6 separate regions of the Homo sapiens genome follow, and regions 2, 3, 4, 5 and 6 are each linked to region 1. The links come from fine-mapping of genetic effects on gene expression. A gene starts in region 1. Each other region holds a variant in brackets. All regions are shown on one strand. Distances are from middle to middle. Region 1 holds the start of EXD3 (exonuclease 3'-5' domain containing 3). Region 2 overlaps EXD3 (exonuclease 3'-5' domain containing 3). Region 3 overlaps EXD3 (exonuclease 3'-5' domain containing 3). Region 4 overlaps EXD3 (exonuclease 3'-5' domain containing 3). Region 5 overlaps EXD3 (exonuclease 3'-5' domain containing 3). Region 6 overlaps EXD3 (exonuclease 3'-5' domain containing 3).

The links. PIP is the estimated chance that this variant, and not a neighbour inherited with it, causes the effect.
Region 2: its variant is fine-mapped to the expression of EXD3 in whole blood (TOPMed, PIP above 0.99).
Region 3: its variant is fine-mapped to the expression of EXD3 in whole blood (TOPMed, PIP above 0.99).
Region 4: its variant is fine-mapped to the expression of EXD3 in whole blood (TOPMed, PIP above 0.99).
Region 5: its variant is fine-mapped to the expression of EXD3 in spleen (GTEx, PIP above 0.99). The same link has a PIP of 0.9 or more in pancreas and unexposed skin.
Region 6: its variant is fine-mapped to the expression of EXD3 in whole blood (TOPMed, PIP above 0.99).

Annotation. Positions count from the first base shown.
Region 1 is chr9:137,421,013-137,425,094 of GRCh38, reverse strand. It overlaps EXD3 (exonuclease 3'-5' domain containing 3), which reads left to right and starts at 1,933. Exons shown (of 22, transcript NM_017820.5): 1 at 1,933-1,981. NOXA1 (NADPH oxidase activator 1) reads right to left here and starts at 1,702. Exons shown (of 14, transcript NM_001256067.2): 1 at 1,389-1,702. The coding sequence starts at 1,565. It also overlaps the pseudogene LOC124902354. RefSeq lists silencers at 1,472-2,031, 2,052-2,191, 2,202-2,341.
Region 2 is chr9:137,368,215-137,372,296 of GRCh38, reverse strand. All of the region lies in intron 5 of EXD3 (exonuclease 3'-5' domain containing 3), which reads left to right. Among named protein-coding and RNA genes, the nearest start is that of EXD3, 53 kb to the left of the region's middle. RefSeq lists silencers at 1,883-2,072, 2,554-2,754 and an enhancer at 3,458-4,059. The variant C/T (reference allele first, on the strand shown) is at 1,927.
Region 3 is chr9:137,350,365-137,354,446 of GRCh38, reverse strand. EXD3 (exonuclease 3'-5' domain containing 3) reads left to right here. Exons shown (of 22, transcript NM_017820.5): 10 at 70-108; 11 at 1,661-1,827; 12 at 2,246-2,381; 13 at 2,919-3,129; 14 at 3,300-3,409. Among named protein-coding and RNA genes, the nearest start is that of NRARP, 50 kb to the right of the region's middle. RefSeq lists enhancers at 2,455-2,963, 2,964-3,473. The variant C/T (reference allele first, on the strand shown) is at 2,097.
Region 4 is chr9:137,397,256-137,401,337 of GRCh38, reverse strand. All of the region lies in intron 1 of EXD3 (exonuclease 3'-5' domain containing 3), which reads left to right. Among named protein-coding and RNA genes, the nearest start is that of EXD3, 24 kb to the left of the region's middle. The variant C/A (reference allele first, on the strand shown) is at 1,845.
Region 5 is chr9:137,378,532-137,382,613 of GRCh38, reverse strand. All of the region lies in intron 3 of EXD3 (exonuclease 3'-5' domain containing 3), which reads left to right. Among named protein-coding and RNA genes, the nearest start is that of EXD3, 43 kb to the left of the region's middle. The variant A/G (reference allele first, on the strand shown) is at 1,686.
Region 6 is chr9:137,385,998-137,390,079 of GRCh38, reverse strand. The region is part of intron 2 of EXD3 (exonuclease 3'-5' domain containing 3); the gene reads left to right. Among named protein-coding and RNA genes, the nearest start is that of EXD3, 35 kb to the left of the region's middle. The variant A/G (reference allele first, on the strand shown) is at 1,818.

The DNA.
Region 1 (4,082 bases):
TGTGGGGTGGCGGCTCAGGGCCAGCAGAACCCACCTGTCTGCCCCAAACGTCACGCAAGGCTCCTAACAAGAGACAGCAGTTCCAGCGACACCCTCTGCACCCTGGGCTGCCCCTCACGTGATCGGCTTTATGAATCATAGCTGTTCCATCTGCTTTCCTAAGTTCCCATATTCCTAACATGCATATGCTGTGGGTTAGTCGTATGACTTTCACTGCGTCCCCTCTCTGTAGTGAAACCAGGCACAAGAGCACAAGTGACTGGGTTAGCCCCGGACATAGGATTTGTTGCTGAACCACCTGGTGTCTAAAGATTACATTCCCTTTCTTGGATAACATTTTAAAATGAAATCATTGTGGGCCGGACAAGGTGGCTCACATGTGTAATCCCACCACTATGGGTGGCCGAGGAGGGTGGATCACCTGAGGTCAGGAGTTCAAGACCAGCCTGACCAACATGGTGAAACCCGTTTCTACTAAAAATACTAAATTAGCCAGGCGTGGTAGTGGGCGCCTGTACTCCCAGCAACTAGGGAGGCTGAGGCAGGAGAATTGCTTGAACCCGGGAGGCAGAGGTTGCAGTGAGCCAAGATTGGGCCACGGCACTCCATTCAGCCTGGGTGACAGAACGAGACTCCATCTTTGAAACAAACAAAAAAATGAAATCATTATGGAGGTGATTGTAAATTTGTACGCAGCTTTAAGACACAAGAGAGGGGGGTCTCATGCGCTTTGCCCAGTCTCCTCCAAGGGGGATATTTTGCCAGTCAGGGGCGTGGAGACCCTCCCACAGCGCGCAGTTCCCTCTCCTTTAAATCACTGCTGTCACCGAGCCTTCAGTAACCGTGGGCACCTGCCTGCTTCTGCGGGGTGCTTGGGACTGAGCGGGGGTGGGCAGCGCTGGCGTTTGGGATGCGCAGGAACAGGCGGCCCCGGAACGCGAGGGGGCACGAGAAGGGCACCGGGCTCCGTGCAGGGCCTCGGCCGCTGCACCCTGGCACCCTGGACTCCTGGCTGTTTCGGGGAGTGGGCTGGGGGAGGGCTGAGGGCTCTGAGGAGGAGACTGACCCGGTCTCCCGGCCATGACCACAGGCGCAACGCTTTCCCCTTAGGGCAGGGCGGTCCCTCGGGCCTGACCCAGCCCAGCAGCTTCCCCCTTCCCGGTGTGAGTCACCCTCGGGCCCCGGCCTCTCCCGGTGACCGCCGCGCCCCCCAGCGCGGCCTCGCTTAGCTCAGGTGCGGCCCCCCTGCTCGGCTCCCACCTGCCGGGGCGTTCGCTGGGTCGGGGGCGGCAGGGCGACCCCGTGACGGTCGGGGAGGGGCGCTGGGCCCTCCCCAGGGGCTCGAGGCGGAGGCGTCGCCCGCACCGGCCTCCCCACGCCCCGCTCACCCGCAGCGCGGCCTCGGGGTCCCCGGCCAGCAGGTGCACGCAGCCCGCGTTGAAGCACAGCCTGGCGGGCGGCGCCGGGACGCCCGAGAAGAGGTGCAAGGCGCGGGCCCAGTCCCCACGATCCACAGCCTGCGCGCCCAGGTGCCAGGCGCGCACCAGGTCCCCCAGAGAGGCCATGGCGGCCGGTGGCGGCGCTCGAGGAGGGGCCAGGATCCCGCGGAGGGGCCGGGGCCGGGGCCAGGCGGCGGCGCGGGGCTGCGGGGTCTCCGAGGCGGGCAGAGGTGCGGGCGCCAAGCGCCAGGTGCAACCCCGCTGCCCCGCGGCGCCCCCTGGCGGCAGGCGCCCGCCCCTCCCCGGTAAGGCCACGCCCCCGCCAGAAACGGCTACGCCCACTCCAGACCCTCAGGCCTCGCCCACCTCCCATTCGGCCCCCGCCCCGGCCGGACTTCCGCCGGGAGCTTTGTGCGCCCGGCTTCCTCGCCCCGCCCGCGCTGGCCTTGGTGCGCCGGATAAAGCCCTCCGGGCCAGCGGCTGCGGTCGGGCCAAGGTTCCGCGCCGGGCGTGGACGGTGTGGGGCGGTCCCGGCCCCGCAGGTGAGCGACCCCGGGCCGCGCGGGCCAGGTGGGCGGTCTGGGCGCCGGGGGCAGAGCGGGGCCGGGCCGGGTGCGCGTCCTGAGGTGAGGGCCGTAGCTGGGAGTGAGCCGGGGGCGGGCCGCCGGCTCTCCCGGGGTGGGGAAACTGAGGCCCCGATGGGGCGGGGAAGGTGCGTTCTCCCGCAGGGCCCCGCTCCGGAGGCCGCCGAGCAGCCGGACGCCGCGGGGAGCTGAGCCGACCCCGGCGACCCCGCCGCCCTGTCCCGCAGGGCCTGCCCTCCTCCGCGCCTTCCGAGCACGGACATCACAGGACCCGGAGGCCCTTCGCTCCCTCGCCGAGGAGGAGGCGCTCCCGGTGGGACGCGCGCGCGCCCGCCCTGCCCTCCCCGGGAGAAGGGACGGGCGCCTCCCTGCAGGGGCCCTGGCTTCCTGTCCACCGGCGCTGAGTCCTGTATTAGTTGTCAACCTAAAATAATTAAAAGGGTCAGAATGTGGTGCCCGGTGGGTTTATTCAGGCACAGAGGTCGAGGGCGGCCTGGGTCACCAGGTGCAACGGAGAACAAAACAGAGGCTCAGGTTTTTAAAGAAAACAGAGCCCATCGGAGAGCAGGTGGTTTCGAACGTTGCCCAGGAGCTCACTGGCTTGTAGAAATGGCATTGGTTCGCGATTGACCACGGCTTGGTGTCATCAGTGGATAGTTACTTGGCTCGAGGGGTAGTGAGGGGCTGCGGTTTCATTTGAAATGCTTTCTGGCACTTAACATCAAGCTTTCTGGGCCCACAGTTTAAAAGGGCTTTACATTCCTCAGATAAATGATTTTTTTCTTTCTCATTTGCCCCCCTTTTGATCAAAATCTTTCTTCTTGAAAGCATTGATTATCAAAATCTGAGGGTCAGAGTGTCCCCTCTTGCTGGGAAGGCTCATTCCCACATAGTCCTGTCCCATGCCAAGCAGGGAAGGAGGAGACATTTCAGGGAGTTTTTTTTTTTTTTTTTTTTTTAAGAACACCACAAACTGAATTGGAATGGCATTACAGGGTGGCAAACATGAGGTCTCAGTGAAGTCATTAATTTATACAACTGCTGTCACCTGTTGAATCATCTCTAGTTTTTAGAAACACCATTAATTTTAATTTTCTCAGAAGTAACACATAGGACTATAACCAATTTGTATGCCAGGATGAAAAAAACAAACCTGTTCCATTAGGGAGACAACTAAAAACATGAAGAAACTAAAATCCATGTTCTTCTTTCTTTTTATTTATTTGTTTACTTAGAAATGGGGTCTTGCTCTGTCACCCATGCTGGAGTGCAGAGGCACGATTCCCACTCATCGCAGCCTTGAACTCTTGGGCTTAAATGATCCTCTTGTCTTAGCCTCCTGAGTACCTGGGAATACAGGTGTTTGCCACCAGGACCGGCTAATTTTAAATTTTTTTGGTAGAGACTAGGTCTTGACACCTTGCCCAGGCTAGTCTCGAACTCCTGAGCCCAAGTGATCCTCTCATCTGGGCCTCCCAAAGTGCTGGGGTTATAGGTGTGAACCTCTGCCCAGCCAGGTTCTTCTTTGAGACTTGTAGCCAGAAGATTGTTCAGGATTTAGTCCAGATTGTAGGAAAATAAAAAATACAATGATCAGGGCTAGAATCCAGTAACAGGTATGCTGTAGTTTTTCTCTGAAACATAATTTTTCTCTACTTCCCCATTTCTACCAAAGATAAATCTTGGTAAGACCAATTTACTTGTAAAATAAATTTTAGGATTATATTTGGCCTGATTATTTGCCTAAAGTACAACAGTGGTGATTGGCCATATAGGCTCCTTTCTAAACTGGCTGGAACTTTGCCATAAGGAATTTCAGACTTTTTTTCCCCACATCAGACAGGTAATGTGCTGGCGTCATAACAGCGTTTGAAGGAGACAGACCCTACACATGAGGCAATCATCATGCTTATGAACTACAAGAGGGTCAGAATAGACCTTTAAAAGCCACTTGAGGGCTGGGCATGGTGGCTCATGCCTGTAATCCCAGCACTTTGGGAGGCCAAGGTGGGAGGATTCATTGAGCCCAGGAGTTTGAGACCAACCTGGGCAACATAGC
Region 2 (4,082 bases), 53 kb after region 1:
AGGTTCAGGGCCAGGGCACCAGTCGCACCTCGGCACAGTCGCCCAGGTGCGAGATGCGTCGGATCAGTATCCAACCCTTCACTGGCTGCTGGCGGGAGAGGTGGCTTCGGTCCCTTTCGGTCCCGGGCCAGGTCTTAAGTGGTGTCGCAGAAGTGTGGGCTTGGCAGCTAAAGGTGTCTGGATGAGAATTGGTGGAGCTGTTGGAATCACAGTGGTTTGCTGAGTCTCCTTTGTGAACAAGGCTGATTTTTAAGCCCAGAAGGTTCCAAGAGGAAGACCAGGTCTAGCATCACAGCCCCGTCGTCCTGAGCCTGGCCAAGCTGTGACTTGGGTTTGTGTGGAACAGTAGGGAGCAGTGGGGCCTGCAGTGGGTAGGGAGGCGGCCGTCTTGCGTGGGGTGGCTCTGAGCTGTTCCTGCAGGTGCAGGGGAGCCCCCATGACTTCTCGGTGCCCTGAGATTCCAGATCCCAGTGCAGATTCTAGGGTGCAGCACGAGGTGCGGCAAAGAAGCCCGGGGGTGTCCTGCCAGGGGATGTCCTGCTTGGGGGTGCTCGGCCCGGGGGTGCTTGGCCCAGGGGTGTCCTGCCTGGGGGTGCCCAGCCCCGGGGGTGCCTGGCCTGGGGGTGCTCAGCTCAGGGTGCACTGATCATGTATGAGGAGGCCGGCACTCAGGGGCACTGGTCCACTCCCCGCCCCATTAGGGCCCCCTTACTTCAGGGCCGAGCGTGAAGGCCACCACCCCGCTGCCTGCCCACGTGGGACCCTGCTGCTGAGACGCCGTCCCGATGGCACCCTGGGTTCCTCTTCCCAGCAAGACCCCTCACCGTGAGGAGGTGCATTGGAACCTGGGCACGGGCATCGGGGGCTGCCCTGGCCGGGCCCTCACAGGAGTGTCCCCTGTGTGGGCCGCGCGGGCCCCACCCCTGGCGCTGTCACCTGCCACGCCCGGGGCCGTCGTCTCGCGGCGGGTGCATGGCGCTGAGAAGCCACCATGTCCCGGCACAGGACAATGCAGGATGGAGGGTCCCCCTCATGTGGCGCGACGCTGAATGGCGGCCGTGCCTGCGGAGAGTGCAGGGAGGCAGAAGGCAGGCTAGTGTTTCGGGCCGTCTTCTGTTACAGAGCCTTTCAAAGACTGTCTGGGGCCGGCTGAATGCGCCTCCCTCGCGCTCCGAGGCAGGAATCCCCACACAAAGGGGGTCTTGTCCCGCACAGGCCCCTTCTGCGAAGAAAGCCATTGTCCCCGAGCGGGGCCGCCCGGCAGGCGATGCATGCTCCACTGCTCACCGCCGCGCCCGGCCGAAAGAGGCCGCATTCAGGCCTGTCCGCTCGGATTAGCTGGGACTCACGACTCAATGTGCTGCGATATTTCATGTCGAGGGCAGCGGCTGGCCCTGGGCAGGATGAATGCCTGCTTTTGTCCGCTGAGTTATTTTATTTACATTTTTTAAACAGCTTATCAAGGTAAAAAGATAGCTTTGCTTTAAAAAAAAAAAAAAAAAAAAGGCCCTCTTGGCTCCAGGCCCACGCAGAGGTGGGAGGCAGGGCTGTCGCTGGGGTCCTCGGCCTTCGAGCCTGGGCACCTGCCCAGCCTTCCTGCCCCTTAGAATGGGGGGCCCAGGGGAGCCGGGGAATGCCCTTCCCGATGGTCGATACCACAGCCCCTCCTGATTTTCTTTTTTTTTTTTTTTTCCTGAAAGCAGCAGCTCCTGGGCCTGTCTAGAGGTTTCTACAGCCCCACCCCGACCCCGCCAGCTGGACAGCCTCGTCTCTCTCTTCCTGGTGGATGCCTCCCATCCTCTGGCAGCAGAGGTCGGGAAGGTCTGCCTGGTGCAGAGGGGCCCAGTTTGCCCCATCTGTCCTCATGGCCCAGCCCCGGGCTCGTTCCTCCCACGGGGTCCAGGACTCTTCACCTTCTGCTGTCTG[C/T]TCCCTGGGCCTGGCTCTGGGGCCAGGTGACCTTTTTGTGCCTGCTGAGTTTCCCAAGTGGCCAGGCATGGACAGTGGGCAGCTGTACACCGTCCTCTCAGGGAAGTTCAGACAGAAATGACCAGACGCTGATTCTAAGCCAGGCACCACCACAGTGAAAGGGCCAGCAGGGCCCCCAAAGCCTGAGACAGGGGTCAGGCCAGGGAGCTTCCTGGAAGGGGTGGGTCTGCTACTAGCCACCCCCCAGCCCCCCACCCCTGTCACCAGGGCTGCCCATGAGCAAGCCTGGGCTCTGCCCTTACCAGGGTGGAGCTAGGGGAGCTCCATCCTCGTCCTGTCCCCCAAGCTGCGAGGCCACAGAGCCCCCACTGGGCTCCGGGTACAAAATGTGGACACAGATGCTGGGGGCCCCAGGACGCCTGCATGTCCAGAAAGCCCACCTGGCCTCAAGAGGCCCCGGGTGCCCAGAGAGCTTCTGTGGGCCTAGAAAGAAAGGTCCAGACACCTGTTAGCCCTGGGCTCTGAATGGCCGTGGTGAAGAGAAGGGCTGAGCTGGGCACTTTGAACTGCCTCTGACGGGGTCGCAGCGTGCGGGACACAGAGGCAGAAGCCACCCACCTGGGGAGCACGGCCAGTACCCAGCCCCACCCAGGCTCCTCTGCAAGCCTGAGGCGGCCTTCTTGGGCTCAGAGGGGTTCCTGGTTGGGTGGGGCCCGCCGAGGGCTGGGACTGGAGCCTGAAGTCTGTCCCTCGGAGGGAGGCTGGGGACAGCAGCGGTGAGGGAAGGCCCTGGCCACCTGCCCCTTGCTGTGTCCCCAGCCTCCCTGGTCCCAGCGTCACCTGCTCAGGGCCTGGTCCCAAGGAGGTGCCGGGCGCAGCCCCATCCTCCACTTCCCTGCACCTGACAATAACCACATGCGGCAGGAGGAGCAGAGGGCGGGCGGGTTGTGACCACCCTGCGGTTCTGAACGGGGTGAGGTGTCCGGCCCTGCACCCCTGCCTTCCGGAGCTCTGGCAGCTTCTCAGGGGGTCCCTGATCCAGAAGGGATCAGAGCCCTTGTGTGAAGCTGCGGGTGTCACTGCTGGGGTGGTCCCCATGTGGTGGCCCCTGCGCCCATGCTCACAGCCGTAAGCCCACCTCCCAGGCCCTGCGCCCCTCCCCATGTGGTGGCCCCGTGCCCCTCCCCGGCCCTGCGCCCCTTCCCACGGCCCTGAGGCCCCGCCCCGGCCCTGCGCCCCTCCCCACGACTCCGAGACTCCCACGCCCCGGGCCCTGCGCCCCTCCCCACGGCCCTGAGACCCCCTCCCCGGGTCCTGCGTCCCTTCCCCTGACCCTGCGCCCCTCCCCACACGGCTCTGAGAAGCCCCCCCACCCCGCCCCGGGCACTGCACCCCGTCCCCCGGCCCTGTGCCCCTCCTCACGGGCCTGAGACTCCCTTCCCGGGCCAGGCGCCCCTGCCCACAGCCCTGGGGCCCCGCCCCGGACCTTCGCCCCTCCCCACGGCCCTGAGACCCCCGCCCCGGGCCCTGCGCCCCATGGGCCTGGTGGAGGCCTAGCCTCTTGGACCCTGGCCAGACAGTAGAGGCGCCGGGTCAGCGCTGCGCAGGGAAAGGCCCCCGGCCCTGCGCCCCCACCCTGCGCACCGGGGCTGGAAGCCGGCTCGAGGCTTTCCCAGGCCGCTATTTTGGTCCTTTCTCTGGGCTGCGCGGGGGCGGGGCGCCGATGCTCCGCGGGCTGCTCTCGTGGGTCATTTTTGCTGGCTATGGGAGCGCGGCTTATGGAAATTATTAATAGCAGCTCAGGCCCGTGGTACGTGCAGGCGGTCAGGGCCCGGCCGTGCCCCGATCGCAGCCAGTGTGGCCTTGGAGCGCTCGCGGGGTGCCCGTCTCCGCCTCGTGGGAAGGGCTAGGACCCCCCAGGCCTCAGGATGCGCTGAGGCTGGGGGTCCTCAGCCTTGGCCCGTCCACTGCAGGCACCATTGTGTTCTGGGGCCCGCAGATGGGTCGTGTGGGAGGTCACGGCTTTGCGCCTTGCCTTGACCCCACCTCCTAGCCTTCCTCTGGCTCATCAGCAATCCCCGAGCAAGGCCCTGGGACCCAGGCTGTGTGGCCAGCCACCCCCTTGAGTCCCTGCTGCCCCATCCAGGCCAAGCCCA
Region 3 (4,082 bases), 71 kb after region 1:
ACTCCCACCAGGCCCCGATACAGCCTCTGGAGCTGCCTGGCAACCGCCCCTTCCTGTTTGCCTTTGCAGAAGAGCCTGTCACAGGAGAACTGGACCGACCATGTGCAGGTGAGTTCGTGCCCTTGCCTGTAAGCCGGCAGGGCGGCCTGGGCGGCTGTCCTAGGGGCACAGGCCCGGAGCCTCCTGGTGGAAGTGCGCAGAGCTGAGGCCTTCGCTGGGGCTGCTGAGCCCAGACCCCATGTTGGGGCGTGTGGCTGGCAGGCGGGTGTAGGGTCCTCAGGCCCGGGAGGCCTGAGCGGGAGCCGAGGGCATCAGTAGAGCCTGACTGGGCCTCGTTCCAGGCAGACGGCAGCGTCCGTGCCACCCGAACCAACCCAGCGGAGCTGCCTGTGGGGCCGGGTGGGGGCTGAGAGTCACCAGAGAGGTGCAAGGCGCCTGGGCGAGGCCGGAAGGAGGAAGGCCAGGCCCCCCCAGCCCGGTGCCAGCGCAGAGCCGGCCGGAAGGGCAGCGGACGTCCTGAAGAATGCGGGCGGCTTCCACGTATTGTCGTCCACGTGGGAACCCACGCCGGGGAAGCAGCCTCAGGCTGCTGGGCCTGAAGCCAGCGGGGCAGGCGGACCCTCCTCGAGGCCGTGGGGTGGGAGGTCGTGCAGGAGCTCAGCCTGCTGGGCAGGTCCCCTCCCTTCCCGCCTGACACTCAAGGCCATCCTGGACCCATGGACTCCAGGACCTTGCGGGGAGGGAGACCCTCGCTTGTGCTGGGCCCTGCATTTCCCAGCGGGGGCTGAGGGTCCCGCAGGCCTGTAGGTGCCTCTGCTCCTGGGCTGGGCGCTGCCACGGTGGCTGCGGGGTGGGAGAGAGCTCACCCTGGTGAGGATGAGGTTTCTCAGGACCCCCTTGGTCATTGCCACCCAGAGGGCACCCCTCTGTCTGCTCCTGGGCCATGGGTGAATGGGTGCCCAATAGCCTCCTGAGCCCTGCCAGCCAAACCCCACATAATGAGGAGGAGGGGAAGGGGCAGAGGGGCTCCCCTGGCAAGAGGAGGAGCGTGGAGATGGGGCAGGCTGGGCAGGTGCTCCAGAAAACATGCCCGGGCTCCTGGGACCCGGGGTGGGGGCAGATGCCTGGTGAGAGCAGGAGGGCCGGCAGAGGCTTGGAGGCCGGGAAGGTCAGTGGAGGCTTGGAGGCCAGGAGGGCCAGTGGAGGCTTGGAGGCTGGAAAGGTCAGTGGAGGCTTGGAGGCCAGGAGGGCTGGTGGAGGCTTGGAGGCCAGGAAGGTCAGCAGAGGCTTGGAGGCCAGGAGGGCCGGTGGAGGCTTGGAGGCCGGGAAGGTCAGCGGAGGCTTGGAGGCCAGGAGGGGCCAGCTGGGGCTGAACTGAGGTGGGCAGCCTTCACCTCAGGCTTGGAGACCCGGAAGGCCAGCCGGGGCTACACTGGGGTGGACAGCCTTTGCCTCAGCACCTCTATCTCAGCCGCTTTGGTCCTGTGGAACCTTGACCTCAGGCAGGACAGATGCTGCAGGCCTCAGGTGGACGGCTGCCCCTCCTCCCCGAGTGCTCATAGCCAGTCTGCAAGGTCGGGGTCTACGGGGGTCCCTCGGGGCAGGGCCCTGTGGCACAGCAATGTCCCCATCTCCATCCTCACGGCCACCCTCCTCACAGGGCCTGGTGGGGCAGAGCCCGTGGCTTCAGGAGCAGCTGTCTCAGCTGCTGGTCTCCCACAGTGACCCAGTCACGGCCGCCCAGTGTGCCATGGAACTCTTGCTGCCCGAGGAGCGGCTGCCGGCTGCGGTGGCTGTGGAACTCCGCCGGTTCAGGCTCCAGGGGAGGTGAGCGCCGCCAGGGTGACCCCAGCCAGGGGTGGGTTCCGCCCAGGGTGGCCCCTACCCTTGGGACGACAGCTCACCAGTCTTCACGCCAGTGGCTTGAGAATTAGAAATCAAGACAAAACAAAGAGCGCAGCTATACACAGAGCAGACAAGACAGCAGGGCCCAGCCCTCCTCCTCTGCTGCCAGATCCATGGCCAGCCCGACCCATGAGGGACCCTGGGGGGACAGTCACCAGGGCCACTGGGAGGAGAGGCAGGAGCAAGGGTCA[C/T]GCTGGGCTGGACTGAGCCGGTGTGGGAGGAGGAGCCAGGACCTGAGATGCCCCCACCAAACAGGCCCTGAATGCTCCCCTCCTGCTCCGAGGTCAGAGTGGGTGGGGGACCAGGGACATGGGGGCGCTACCAGCTCTGCTCCTCCCAGGGCGACTGAGGCTGACTCGAGGCTGGAGGTGAAGGACATGAAGGACCGTTACTACCAGCTGCCCATCCCCAGGGAGAACGTCCACCTCCTGGCCTCGTGGGAAGACCTGACCAGACACGAGGGTGCACTCCTGCAGGTGGTTCCCTCGGCCGCTGGGGCAGCGCCCGGTGGTGGGATCCCCCTGCCAGGCACTGGAGGAGCATCAGGGGCATGGCATTCGGAGAGAGGCAAGGCCTCTGGGCATGAGCCCGCCAGGTGCCCCAGGGCTGCTGTGAGGGCAGCCGTTCCCCACACTGTGCTGCTGAGACTCCAGGATGCTGGCTGCTGGCATTTACCCAGTGCTGCCAGCCTGTGGAAGGTGCCGTGGAATCCCCATTTTACAGATGGTGCCCGAGACGTGGGGTGCCTCCCTGACACGGGCACTGCCGTGGGCACCAGGCCAGGCTCTTGCTCACAACAGCCAGGCCTCCCTCTCTGGTGCAGCCACAGAAAGCAGGGGGCAGCTGGAGCACAGGCCTTAGTGCCCCCAACAGCCCCAGCCCTATAAACATGCAGGGGTGCAGGGGCGTCTCCCCGAAGCCCAAGCTCACAGAGCTGCTCAGGACCTCCAGGCTGTGGTCCCTGCAGAGCCAAGTTGGCCCTGATGATCACATCTGCCCCTCTCTGCCCGCAGTGCCACCAAGTGGTTGGTGTAGACGTGGAGTGGACACCTGTGTTTGTTGCTGGGGGCCGGCCTCGGCCGTCACTCCTGCAGGTGGCCGTGGAGGGCCACGTGTTCCTTCTGGACGTCCTGGCACTCTCGCAGCCACCAACAGGGCAGGGAGCCCAGGCCTTTTCCCGGCTGGTGGCCCAGCTCCTCTCGGACCCCTCTATCACCAAGCTGGGTGAGTGAAGCCCTGGGGCCCCCTGCCCAGTCCAGAAAGAAAGCAGCCCGCACCCCTGCCTGACCCTTCCCTCCGTGTGCCCCGGGGAGGGTGCTGGGTGCACCCTGGGGTCAGGGGACAGTGCGGTCCCTGCCTGCAGGCGCCCCTCCCACGATGGTTCCTGCCCACAGGCTACGGGATGGTGGGGGACCTGCAAAAACTGGGCACGTCCTGCCCCGCCCTGGCCCATGTGGAGAAGCAGATTCTGGGCGGCATGGACCTGCTGCTGGTGCACAGACAGGTGGGCACCCACTGAGCCGCTCACAAGATGCCGGGTGGGCCTGGGGTTCGAGGGCTGCTTGGGGCCCCTCCACACCTTCCCAGCGGCCCTGGGCTTCTCCCGCCGGATTCCTGTCAGCACAGCCTCAGTCACCAGGGCCCCAGAGCAGAGCCTGGCAGAGCTGGATCTGGCATCTCCAGGGAGGGAGCAGGGCCTCCTGGTGCAGGCATCCCTGAGCCCCTGTGGGGCCGTTATCTGGTGTGAGGGCACCTTCCCCCAGACCTGAGCCCTGGGTTCCACTTGGAGGAGCTGCGGGAGGGAGCCCCTGGGGCTCTATCTAGCCCCCTCCCCGTGATCCCCACCCCTCTCTATCTAGCCCCCTCCTTGTGATCCCCACCCCTCTCTATCTAGAACCCTCCCCGTGATCCCCACCCCTCTCTATCTAGAACCCTCCCCGTGATCCCCACCCCTCTCTATCTAGCACCTTCCCCGTGATCCCCACCCCTCTCTATCTAGAACCTTCCCCGTGATCCCCACCCCTCTCTATCTAGAACCTTCCCCGTGATCCCCACCCCTCTCTATCTAGCCCCCTCCCCGTGATCCCCACCCCTCTCTATCTAGAACCTTCCCCGTGATCCCCACCCCTCTCTATCTAACCCCTCCCCGTGATCCCCACCCCTCTCTATCTAGCACC
Region 4 (4,082 bases), 24 kb after region 1:
TAAAAATACAAAAATATTTAGTCGGGTGTGGTGGCGGGCATCTGTTGTCCCAGCTACTTGGGAGGCTGAGGCAGGAGAATGGTGTGAACCCGGGAGGTGGAGCTTGCAGTGAGCTGAGATCGCGCCACTGCACTCCAGCCTGGGCAACAGAGTGAGACACCATCTCAAAAAAAAAAAAAAAAAAAGGAAATGGGTGGGAGCCCCCACACAGAGTCCCTACTGGGACACTGCCTAGTGGGACTGTGAGAAGCAGGCCACTGTCATCCAGATGCCAGAATGGTAGATCCACCGACAGCCTGCACCATGTGCCTGGAAAAGCAGCAGACACTCAACACCACCTGTGAAAGCAGCTGGGAGGGAGGCTGTACCATGCAGAGTCACAGGGGTGGAGCTGCCCAAGACCATGGGAACCCACCTCTTGCATCAGCATGACCTGGATGTGAGACCTGGAGTCAAAGGAGATCATTTTGGAGCTTTAAAATTTGACTGCCCTTCTGGATTTCAGACTTGCGTGGGCCCTGTAATCCCTTTGTTTTGTCCAATTTCTCCCATTTGGAACTTTTTTTTTTTTTTGAGATGGAGTCTCGCTCTGTTGCCCAGGCTGGAGTGCAATGGCGCGATCTCGGCTCATTGCAACCTCCACCTCCCAGGTTCGAGTGATTCTCCTGCCTCAGCCTCCCAAGTAGCTGGGACTATAGGTGGGTGCCACCACGCCCGGCTAATTTTGTATTTGTAGTAGAGACAGGGTTTCTCCATGTTGGTCAGGCTGGTCTCAAACTCCCGACCTCAGGTGATCCACCCTCCTCGGCCTCCCAAAGTGCTGGGATTATAAGAATGAGCCACCATGCCCGGCCCAGAATGGCTGTATGTACTGAATACCTGTACCCCCATTGTATCTAGGAAGTAACTAACTTGCTTTTGATTTTACAGGCTCATAGGCGGAAGAGACTTGCCTTGTCTCAGATCAGACTTTGGACTGTGGACTTTTGGGTTAATGCTGAAATCAGTTGAGACTTTGAGGGACTGTTGGGAAGGCATGATTGGTTTTGAAATGTGAGGACGTGAGATTTGGAGGGGCCGGGACGGAATGATGTGGTTTGGCTGTGTCCCCACCCAAATCTCAACCCGAATTGTATCTCCCAGAATTCCCACGTTATGGGAGGGACCCAGGGGGAGTAATTACATCATGGGGGCCAGTTTTTCCCATGCTATTCTTCTGATAGTGAGTAAGTCTCATGAGATCTGACGGGTTTATCAGAGGTTTCCTCTTTTGCTTCTTCCTCATTTTCTTTTTTTTTTTTTTTTTTTGAGATGGAGTTCTGCTCTGTCACCCAGGCTGGAGTGCAATGGTGCAGTCTCAGCTCACTGCAACCCCTGTTCCCAGGTTCAAGTGATTCGCCTTTCTCCGCCTCCTGAGTACCTGGGAGGCACCACCACCACGCCTGGCTGCTTTTTGTATTTTTAGTAAAGACAGGGTTTCGCCATGTTGGCAGGCTGGTCATGAACTCCTGACCTCAGGTGAACTGCCCGCCTCAGCCTCCCAAAGTGCTGGCATTACAGGAGTGAGCCACTGTACCCGGCTCTCATTTTCTCTTGCCACCACCATGTAAGAAGCGCCTTTCGCCTCCCACCATGATTCTGAAGCCTCCCCAGCCATGTGGAACCATAAGTCCAATTAAACCTCTTTTTGTTCCCAGTTTCAGGTATGTCTTTATCAGCAGCGTGAAAATGAACTAATATGGGGGTTAGGAAGAGAAGCCAGGAATAAGAGAGGAGACCCTTGTAAAAAGCTTCAGAAAACCAGAACTCGTGGATAGTATTAAATTTGTGATAGCAGAAATGAA[C/A]CTTTCAGTGAGAGGGTTGCAAAATAAAGTTCAGGAAATCTCCCAAAAAGGCAGAGAAGGAAAGATGAGAAGACAAAGTAATTCTCAGGAAGTGTAAGTTCTAAACAGCAGGAGTTCCTGAGGACAGAACTGAGGGCGTGGAGGGCAGGACACCATCGGGAAGCCACATGCAGAAGGGTGGCCACGGAGCCCCCAGGGGACCACACCATGTCCGTCCTGCTGGGATCCGGCCACGGCCCCGGGGTCTCCCCAGAAGATGCTGGCACTCGAGTCAGGGGGCATCAGATTTCTCAGCAACCCCTGAGGCTAGAAGACAGTAGAGGGGCGTTACCATGACCGTCAGGAGAATGACCCCTGCCCCACAGCCACGCACAGCCAGGCTTCCAGTGGAGGTGCAGTGTGCGTGTGTCATGGGGACGTGGATGCGCCTGTGCCACAGGGACAGTCTGTGTATGTCACGGGGATGTCGGTGTGCACGTGTTACGAGGATGTTGGACGCGTGTCACGGGGACATGGTTGCCTGTGTGTCTTGGGGATGTGTCTTGGGGACGCGGGTGCACATGTGTCACGGAGACGCGGTTGCCTGTGTGTCTTGGGGACGCGGGTGCATGTGTGTCACGGGGACGCGGGTGCCTGTGTGTCTTGGGGATGCGGGTGCACGTGTGTCACGGGGACGCGGGTGCCTGTGTGTCACGGGGACGCGGGTGCCTGTGTGTCACGGGGACGCGGGTGCCTGTGTGTCTCGGGGACGCGGGTGCCTGTGTGTCTTGGGGATGCGGGTGCACGTGTGTCACGGGGACGTGGGTGCCTGTGTGTCTTGGGGACGCGGTCGCCTGTGTGTCTTGGGGACGCGGGTGCCTGTGTGTCTTGGGGACGCGGGTGCCAGTGTGTCTTGGGGACGCGGTTGCCTGTGTGTCTTGGGGACGCGGTTGCCTGTGTGTCTTGGGGACGCGGTTGCCTGTGTGTCTTGGGGACATGGGTGCACATGTGTCATGGGGACGTTCTCAGACAAGCAAAGGGCTACTCAGTGCTCCTCCCTTGCGGTTCTGCCTGAGGTGCTCCTGGAAAAGGTGCTCCCTTAGAACTAGGAGGTGAACTTCGGGGAGCACAGGGGACAAGAGGGAAGGGGGTCCAGGGTGAGCAGGGCTGCAGTGCAGCCATCCAGACGGAGGCAGGCAGAGGCTGGGGAATGGGTGTCTCCACAAAGCGTGTGAACCCCAGAGCCAGGCGTGCAGTGCTGCAGACGGGGCCGTTCACCAGGGGAACAGAGGGCGCCCGGCTGTGGACCGTGGAGCCACAGTTCCTTCTGTCTTTCCCCCTCGTTCTTTCAATCTGGTCCTTCTTTGATCTGTTTTCAGATTCACTGACTCATCTGCCATCCACCTGCTGTGAAGCACAGCCACTGAGTCAAACACATTTCAGTGATGACACTTTTTATTGCCGAGTTTCCATTTAGCTCTTTTATGTAGTTTCATATAATCTTCATTTCTCTCCTTTTACTCATTAAAACCATATTTTTTAACTTTATTCATGGTTTTTTGGGGTTTTCTTGAGACAGGGTCTCGCTCTGTCATGCAGGTTGGAAGGCAGTGGTGCGATCTCGGCTCACTGCAGCCTTGATCTCTGGGCTTCCAGCGACTCTTCTGCCTCCGCTTGCTGAGTAGCTGGAACCAAAGGCGTGAGCCACCACACCCGGCTACTTTTTAATTTTTTTGTACAGTTTGACCATGTTGCCTAGGATGGTCTCAAACTCCTGGGCTCAAGTGATCCTCCCGCCTCAGCCTCCCACACTGCACTCGGCCTCCTTGAACTGTTTGAACATGTTTTCTGTTCATTCTGTGAACGCAGTTGAAATCGTTGTGTTAAAGTCTTTGCTAACACCAATAACTTTGAGGCCTTCCTCGAAGTTGCTTTCTGTTCTCTGTTTTTTGTGTTTTTCCACTTGTTTATGGGTCATATTTCCTTGTTTCTTTTTAGGTCTTGTGATTTTTATTACGTGCTGAGTTTCGTGAATTATCCATTGTGGAAACTCTGGATTTAGGTATCATCCTCTGAAGAGCATTGTTTTTCGCTCCGGTGGGCTGTTCAGCTTCTGGCTGAGTCCCTTGAACTTGGGGTTGTGTCTTGATGTTTTGTCAGGGGCTCTTCGGAGAGCCTAGGGCCTTTCTCAAGCCTCCTAAGCTGGGTGGGACTCAACCTTCTCCAGCTTTCACGGGCTTGGTCTGGATCTGTCCTCCG
Region 5 (4,082 bases), 42 kb after region 1:
GCCTCTCTCCTGCACCCACCTCTGCCAGCTTTCGTTTGTCCATCAGCTCGGTGGCTTCTTGGGCCTCCAGCTTGTGAATCTCTGTCCTTGCTTTTGAGATTTCCCTCTGCCGTTCCATTTCCAGGCTCTCTTGTCGGACCTTCGTCTGTGACGCTCAGTCTTCCTCGCTCTTTGGCACCTGCGTGTGTGGTGTGAGCCTCCCCGGGTCCCGCCCTCTGCCCCCCGCCCCCCACGTGTCTGAGTTGTGGGATTCCACTGTCCTTTCCTCCCTATGTCCTGACATTCGTCCTGGCGTCTCCTTGGAGCAGCGCTTGTTTATACACAGACAGGGCTGAGATCTGCTCCGGGCTCCGCTGACAGCCATGAGGCCGTCAGGCATTTCATCTTCATGGGGTGGGCCTGTGTCTGTGCCCTCACCTCCTCCGCGCGCCCTCACCTCCTCCGCATGCTCCCACCTCCTCCCCGCGCCCTCACCTCCTCCCCGCGCCCTCACCTCCACCGCCGCCCTGACCTCCACCGCCGCCCTGACCTCCACCGCGCGCCCTCACCTCCTCCGCGCGCCCTCACCTCCTCCCCGCGCCCTCACCTCCTCCCCGCGTCCTCACCTCCTCCCCGCGTCCTCACCTCCTCTGCGTGCTCCCACCTCCTCCCTGCGCCCTCACCTCCTCCTCGTGCTCTCACCTCCTCCTCGCGCCTCCATCACATTCCCGGATTCCAGCAAGCTGGCGAATGCCACATGCCCAGTGGCCCTGGGTGGGCCAGGAGCCTTGAAGATGGGGTCCTTGGGGGTCCTGGGTGCTGAGGAGAAGCCCAACCCTAGAGCCGGCTGCACATGGAGGTCTTGGGGACCCCCATATGGTGGCACAGACGCCGGGTGCCCCCAGAGGAGGGAGATGAAGACCAGGATTTTGGAGAACTCCTTGGGGCGGTCTGCAGTATAAAGGGGGCAATGGGACTGTTGGCCGTCTGGGAGGGCTTAGGTGTTCCTCTAACGTGAGAGAGGAGCCAGCACACCGGGCGGGTGAGAGCAGCCTGGGAGACGGGCAGGAGGAGGAGGCAGGGCTGGGGCGGGGTGAGGGCCTGGAGTAGGCGCACTCCCAGAGTGGGGCTCCCCTGGTTCATTGGGCCCTTCCCAGCCCCACTGCCCAGCAGCCTGTGGTGGGGTGTTCCTGTCTTTTTTTTTTTTTTTTTTTTTTTTGAGAAGGAGTCTTGTTCTGTCACCCAGGCTGGAGTGCAGTGGTGCAATCTCGGCTCACTGCAAGCTCCGCCTCCCGGGTTCAAGGGATTCTCCTGCCTCAGCCTCCGGAGTAGCTGGGATTACAGGCGCGCGCCACCACGCCCGACTAATTTTTTTTTTGTATTTTTAGTAGAGACGGAGTTTCACCATGTTGGCCAGGCTGTTCTCGAACTCCTGACCTCAGGTAATCCGCCCGCCTCGGCCTCCCAAAGTGCTGGGATTACAGGTGTGAGCCACCGCACCCAGGCTTTTCGTGTGTGTGTGTGTGTGTGTGTGTGAGACAGAGTCTTGCTCTGTCACCCAGGCTGGAGTGCAGTGGCATGATCTCGACTCACTGTAACCTCCGCCTCCCAGATTCAAGTGATTCTCTTGCCTCAGCCTCATGAGTAACTGGGATTAATAGGTGTGCAACACCACGCCTGGCTATTTTTGTATTTTTAGTAGAGAC[A/G]GGGTTTCACCATGTTGGCCAGGCTGGTCTTGAACTCCTGACCTCAAGCAATCCACCTGCCTCGGCTTCCCAAGATGGTCCTGTTGTAACAGGGTGGTCCTATCCTAACAGCCCCTCGGGGGGGCCTTCTGGTGCTGCTGAGCCCATGGGACCCCCCCAGCCCCACTACTGAAGCCGTGAGTGGAGCCAACAGCTCAGTGCAGGGGATGCCAGCCAGCAGGGAGGAAGGGGGATACCGGCGGGGGGATTGGGGGGGATGCCCAGAGGGGGGTTGGGGAGGAGGGGGGATACGGGTGGGGAGGATTGGGGGGATGCCCAGAGGGGCATTGGGGTGGGGGGGAACCAGTGGAGGGATTGGGGGGGATGCCCAGAGGGGGGATACTGGTGGGCGTTATCGGGGGGGACGCCCAGAGGGGGGTTGGGGTGGGGGAGATACCGGTGGGGGGATTGGGGGGGATGCCCGGAGGGGGGTTGGGGTGCGGGGGATACTGGCGGAGGGATTGGGGGGGACGCCTGGAGGGGGGTTGGGGAGGAGGGGGGATACCGGCGGGAGGATTGAGGGGGATGCCCGGACGGGGGTTGGGGTGGGGGGGGATACTGGCAGGGGGATTGGGGGGGACGCCCAGAGGGGCATTGGGGTGGGGGAGCTCACATTGTTTTCTCCGTGCACAGCAGGAGGCTCTTTGTAGCTGAGGGGACCAGGAATGAGGAGTGAAGACCAGTGAAGGGCTCGAAGGGAGGAGGGACCGGCAGGGTGGGTGGGACGGCTTCCTTCACAGGGACCCCGGGAGGGAGGCAGGCAGCGCAAGGGGAGCCCAGTCTCAGAGCCATGGGTCCCAAGGGTCTTGGCACGTTCATTGAGGCCACCAAGATAAGGACAGGAGCTGGAAGGAGATGCCTGGGCCAGGACTGAAGTCTCCCGGAACAACGGGCTGGGACCCTGAGGCTGGCAGGGGTGCAGTGGGCACTGGGTCCATGTGTGGCTTGCGCTGGCCGACGTGGGCACACAAGGGGCACAGCTGCCACTGGGGGCCTGGAGGGGAGGACCCAGCTGGGGTCTGGAGGGCCAGGATTTTGCAGAAGGTTTACGGGACTGAAGCAGGAGTGAGGGAAGGCGGGCTGTGGTTAGAACGGGTGCTGCAGAACTCCGGGGGTGACAGAAACCAGCCTGGGCGAGAGCGCACCCCAAATCAGAGCCACGGAGCGTCGGCTTCATCGAATGCTTTATTGGGGTAAGATGCACGACATATAAAACCAGCCGTTTCACAATGAGTGACTCAATGGCCTGGAGCGCCCAGTCGTGCTTCGTGAATCTTTCTACATCTTCACAACCTGTGCACCTCTTCTGGTTTCAGAATGGTTCATCGCTTCAGAAGCAAACCCCGTACCCCTCACACAGACGCCCCATTCCCCTCGGCCCCAGGCAACGGTCACCGTCACCCGCAAACCCCGTACCCCTCACACAGACGCCCCATTCCCCTCAGCCCCAGGCAACGGTCACCGTCACCCACAAACCCCGTACCCCTCACACAGACGCCCCCATTCCCCTCGGCCCCAGGCAACGGTCACCGTCACCCGCAAACCCTGTACCCCTCACACAGACGCCCCCATTCCCCTCGGCCCCAGGCAACGGTCACCGTCACCCACAAACCCCGTACCCCTCACACAGACGCCCCATTCCCCTCGGCCCCAGGCAACGGTCACCGTCACCCACAAACCCCGTACCCCTCACACAGACGCCCCCATTCCCCTCGGCCCCAGGCAACGGTCACCGTCACCCACAAACCCTGTACCCCTCACACAGATGCCCCATTCCCCTCGGCCACAGGCAATGGTCACCGTCACCCACAAACCCCGTACCCCTCACACAGACGCCCCATTCCCCTCGGCCCCAGGCAACGGTCACCGTCACCCACGAACCTTGTACCCCTCACACAGATGCCCCATTCCCCTCGGCCCCAGGCAATGGTCACCGTCACCCACAAACCCCGTACCCCTCACACAGATGCCCCATTCCCCTCGGCCCCAGGCAACGGTCACCGTCACCCACAAACCCTGTACCCCTCACACAGACGCCCCATTCCCCTTGTCACACAGGCCCTAGCCACTGCTCACCCGCTTTCTGCCTCTGGATTTGCCACTTCTGGACAGTTCACACACATGCGGTCACATAACATGGGGTCTTTTGTGACTTGCTTCTTCATTTAGCACGATATCAAGGCTTGTCTATGTGGATGTCTGTGTCAGCTTCCTCCTTTTCCGTGGCTGAGTAATACGTGGCCAGGCCACATGCTGTTTCTTCATAGACAGCTGAGGGTCATCTGCGCCATCTCCACCTCTGGCCGTTGTAAATAAGTACTTCTCTGAAAATTCATCTACAAACATCTGCGTGAGCCC
Region 6 (4,082 bases), 35 kb after region 1:
CGCAACCTTGGCTCACTGCAACCTCCACCTCCCAGGTTCAAGTGATTCTCCTGCCTCAGCTTCCTGAGTAGCTGGGATTACAGGCACCCACCACCATGCTTGGGTAATTTTTGTATTTTTAGTAGAGACGGGGTTTCGCCATGTTGGCCAGGCTGGTCTCGAACTCCTGACCTCAGGTGATCTGCCCGCCTCGGCCTCCCAAAGTGCTGGGATTACAGGCATGAGCCACTGTGCCGGGTCTGTTACTTTTTAAAAATAGGCATTTCATCTTCCAATATTTCTGTTGTAGGTAGGATCTTTTCTTCAGCAGATTTTCTGACCTGCGGTTGCAGAATGAAATTTGGGGATCTCTCTGTCCCTCTCTGCATGCATCCACCTGGCTCCCAGCGTCCCAGCTCCTTGCTGGTCTCACTGTCCCTCTCTGTCCCTCTCGCTCCGAGCGTCCCAGCACCTCGACGTACTCACTGTCTCTGAGTGGCGTCCGCCTCATGCCCCCTGAGCTGGTACCGCCCTTTCCCTCTCTGCCTCCTTGTGGGGTCCACAGCATCGAACGGTGGGCTCTCCCCCTCATCCCGCTTTCCCAGCAGAGGCAGCTTGGGCTTAGGCTGGGTCAGGTTCTGTCTCCAAGGCCCTCGGCTTCATGGATGAGGCAAGTGAGTAGGACTGAGGGTGAGGGGACCCATGACCGATGAGAGACGGTGCTGTGCTGGGGTTGTGGGCCGCTGTGTTGATAGAGCAAGGGGCTCCGTGCCAGATGCTGGACCTCCGGGAGCCCCTTCACCTCACTCCCCAGACACGGGCGGTCCTCTGCGGCGAGCCGAGGTGGAGGGCACACGCTGTCCGCCGGGCTTGGGGTCTCGTTGCCGCCTCTGTCCTTATCACGTCCCCCGCCCTGCCTGCAGCTGAGCACAGGCAGATGTGGGTGGAATCTGAGACCAGAGACGGTTGGGCTGGAGGGGGTGGCCCCATCTCAGCTGCCCCCGGACGCCAGAAGGCCACCAGGAGACAGACTCGTGGCAGAGGGACGGAGGCCCCAGTGCGTGGTGGGTGGGCGTGGCCTCTCAGGACACGCCTGCGGGAGGTGCCATGGGGTCTCTGAGGGGAGCTGAGGCCGTGGGCTGGCCCTTTCTGCTGTCCGTGGGCGGTCAGAGGACTGACCCAGGCGGGGTGCTGTGCTGATAGCAGGTGCCTGGACCCGTGGACATGCAGGTCACCACAGCGCGTGGGGTCTGGTCTGGGCGGCCGGGCTCTTCTACACTCACTGCCGCGGGGTCTGATGCTGCTGGCAGGTGTGGGACGGCCTTGGAGACGGGCTGTGAGCTTTGTGACCCAGGCCCCAAGAGGAGAGCCAGCTGCCGGGGAGACCCACTCGGGGGCTTTGTGAAGACCACGTCACAGACTTCCTGCCTGGAGGCCGGGTGTCCCCTGCCAGCATCCGCTGCCTGGTGTCCTCTGCCTGGCGCCCGCTGCTGGGGTCGGCCTCAGTTCCTGGGGCTTCTGTGCCCCCAACCCTGTGGATAAAAAGCCCCCTGTGTTTCTCATCCCCGCTTTATGGTAGAGTGTCGGGAATAACAGAGCCTTCGGCGCCACCCACTCCACAGCCCACAGTTTCCCGCGTGCGTCTGTGTCTCAAGGTGAAGGCAGCCCCATTAGCCGGGTGTCGTTTGGAGGAAGTGGCGTCCCTGTGTTCTGCCCATCCTGCGTCCCTGCAACCATCCGTCCTCCCGTCGGCCGGCGCGGGGGTGTCAGCTGGGGAGCCGTCCTGGGGACAGATGGTGGAGCCGTCCTGGCCGCCTCTGCCTGGACACCCTCAGGCC[A/G]ACCCCACAGAGTTCCTGAGCCCTCCCAGGCACGTTTTGGGGAGGGTGGCTGGGGGGGAAGCCAGTGTGGGCACCAGGCTCTGGTGCTGGGCAGGGACCATGATTCAGCCCCCCAGAGAGAAGCAGCCCAGCTCTTGGATGTGAATCCACATTCGGGGGACTGTGGGACTTTTATTCTTGAGCTTGAGTTTTTTCTAGGTGTCCTCCTAATACACAGCTGCCCCGCTCTGCCCCCACCCACATGGTTCCAAGGGGCAGGGTCCAGGGTCAGGGCCCAGCCTCCTGGCCAGGGCCATCTGTCTCAGCGTCCTAGACCTGCCTGTCTGCAGGTCCCAGGCATCGGTGCAGCACTGATGAACTTGGCGAATTCAGGGAACTTGGGCCTGGGTGTGGAGGTGGGGGCCAGAGGCCACCCACGGAGCTCCGGCCAAACATCCACGCTGGGGACCAAAGGCCCCCAGAAGCTACTGCACGAGGAGGCGACCTCAGGGAGGGCTGGCTGGGGCTTCTGGGGCCGGAGAGCGGGTCTGGGAGGTCCCTCGGTGTCAGCTCCAAGCCCCACCCGCCCTTCTCGGACCCCGTGCCCCTGCGTGGTATCCCTGAGTTGGGGTGCGTGGGGTGCTGTGTGCTGAGTGGGGTGTGTCCCCCAGGGCTCTCCCAGGCACCCTGTCCTCTCACTGCTGAGCCCTGGGGCTCACAGAGCTCGCTTGTCTTCTTCGTTCAGACAGAAGCCGCCCCTGGACATCCTGTTTTTCTTCTGTTGTATGAACAGGAAGCCAGCAATTGTGTGGGATGAGTGTCAGCATGGCCGTGTCTGAGCCCGGCACGGCAGACACTTGTCCCGCCACACCTGCCATGGGTCCCTCCAGCTCTGGCCCGAGAGACTCAGGGCTCCCCAGGGCTCCCCAGTTGCGTGGGCTGTGAGCACCATGTGTGCACGGCTGGCCCTGGAATGGCTGGGGCGGGCACCGTGGAGTGTCCATCGTGCACCGGCCATGGCCTGGAAGGAGACCCAGGCGGTCACTGCCCTGGGGCTCAGCGTTGAGGCCACAGTGAAGCGACAGGGGCAGAAGGGCAGGGGCCGGGGGCCAGGCAGGGAGCGGGGGCCGAGGGCCAGGCAGGGAACAGAGGCGCTGAGGGAGGCAGACAAGGAGTAGGGGCCGGGGGCCAGGCAGGAAGCAAGGGCCGGGGGCCAAGCACGGAGCAGGGGTGCTGAGGGAGGCAGGCAGGGAGCAGGGGTGCTGAGGGGGCCAGGCAGGGAGCGGGGGTGCTGAGGGAGGCAGGCAGGGAGCAGGGGTGCTGAGGGAGGCAGGCAGGGAGCAGGGGTGCTGAGGGAGGCAGGCAGGGAGCAGGGGTGCTGAGGGGGCCAGGCAGGGAGCAGGGGTGCTGAGGGGGCCAGGCAGGGAGCAGGGGTGCTGAGGGAGGCAGGCAGGGAGCAGGTGTGCTGAGGGGGCCAGGCAGGGAGCAGGGGTGCTGAGGGAGGCAGGCAGGGAGCAGGGGTGCTGAGGGGGCTTCCGGGCAGGCTGCTGGGTGCTCGAGAAGCAGCCTCAGGCCCAAGGGGCAGGGTCCAGGTACACGGAGGTTGGAGGCTGGGAGGATGTGGTGGGCCCTGGCTTTGACTCTCAAGGCTGAGGGGCCACGGTGGAGTCCATAAAGTGGCCTGGCCTGCCCCATATTTCTGTAGGATGCTAGGGCTGTGCCGTGTTGCGCGGCTGGGTGTTGTCTGAGGGCACAGCGTCAAGGCAGGGAGTCCCCTGGGAATCTGGAGTGGCCCAGGTCGGTGGGAGGGGGCAGACCCTGCCCACCTGGAGGGCAGAACCAGCAGGACCTGAGCAGGGCAAAGACCAGCAACACTGACTGGGGAGTAGGAGGGCCGGCATCACCAACTTCCCACCTGGAAAGGTGGATCTCGATTTGGAGAACTTAAAAAGAATAATAAGGACACCCTGCTTATTGATGGATGGATTGATTGACAGGTTCTCACTCTGTCCCCCAGGCTGGAGGGCAGTGGCACAATCAGGGCTCACTGCAGCCTCAACCTCCCAGGCTCCAGCCATGCTCCCACCCCAGCCTCCCAAGTGGCTGGGACCTCAGGAGCGCCACCATGCCCAGCTAATTTTATTTATTTTGGTAGAGATGGGGTCTTGCTGTCTTGCCCAGGCTGGTCTCAAACTCCAGGGCTCAAGCGACCCACCCACCTCAGCCTCCCAAAGTGCTGGGATTACAAGTGTAAGCCACCTTGCCCAGCTTCACCCTGCTTTTAAA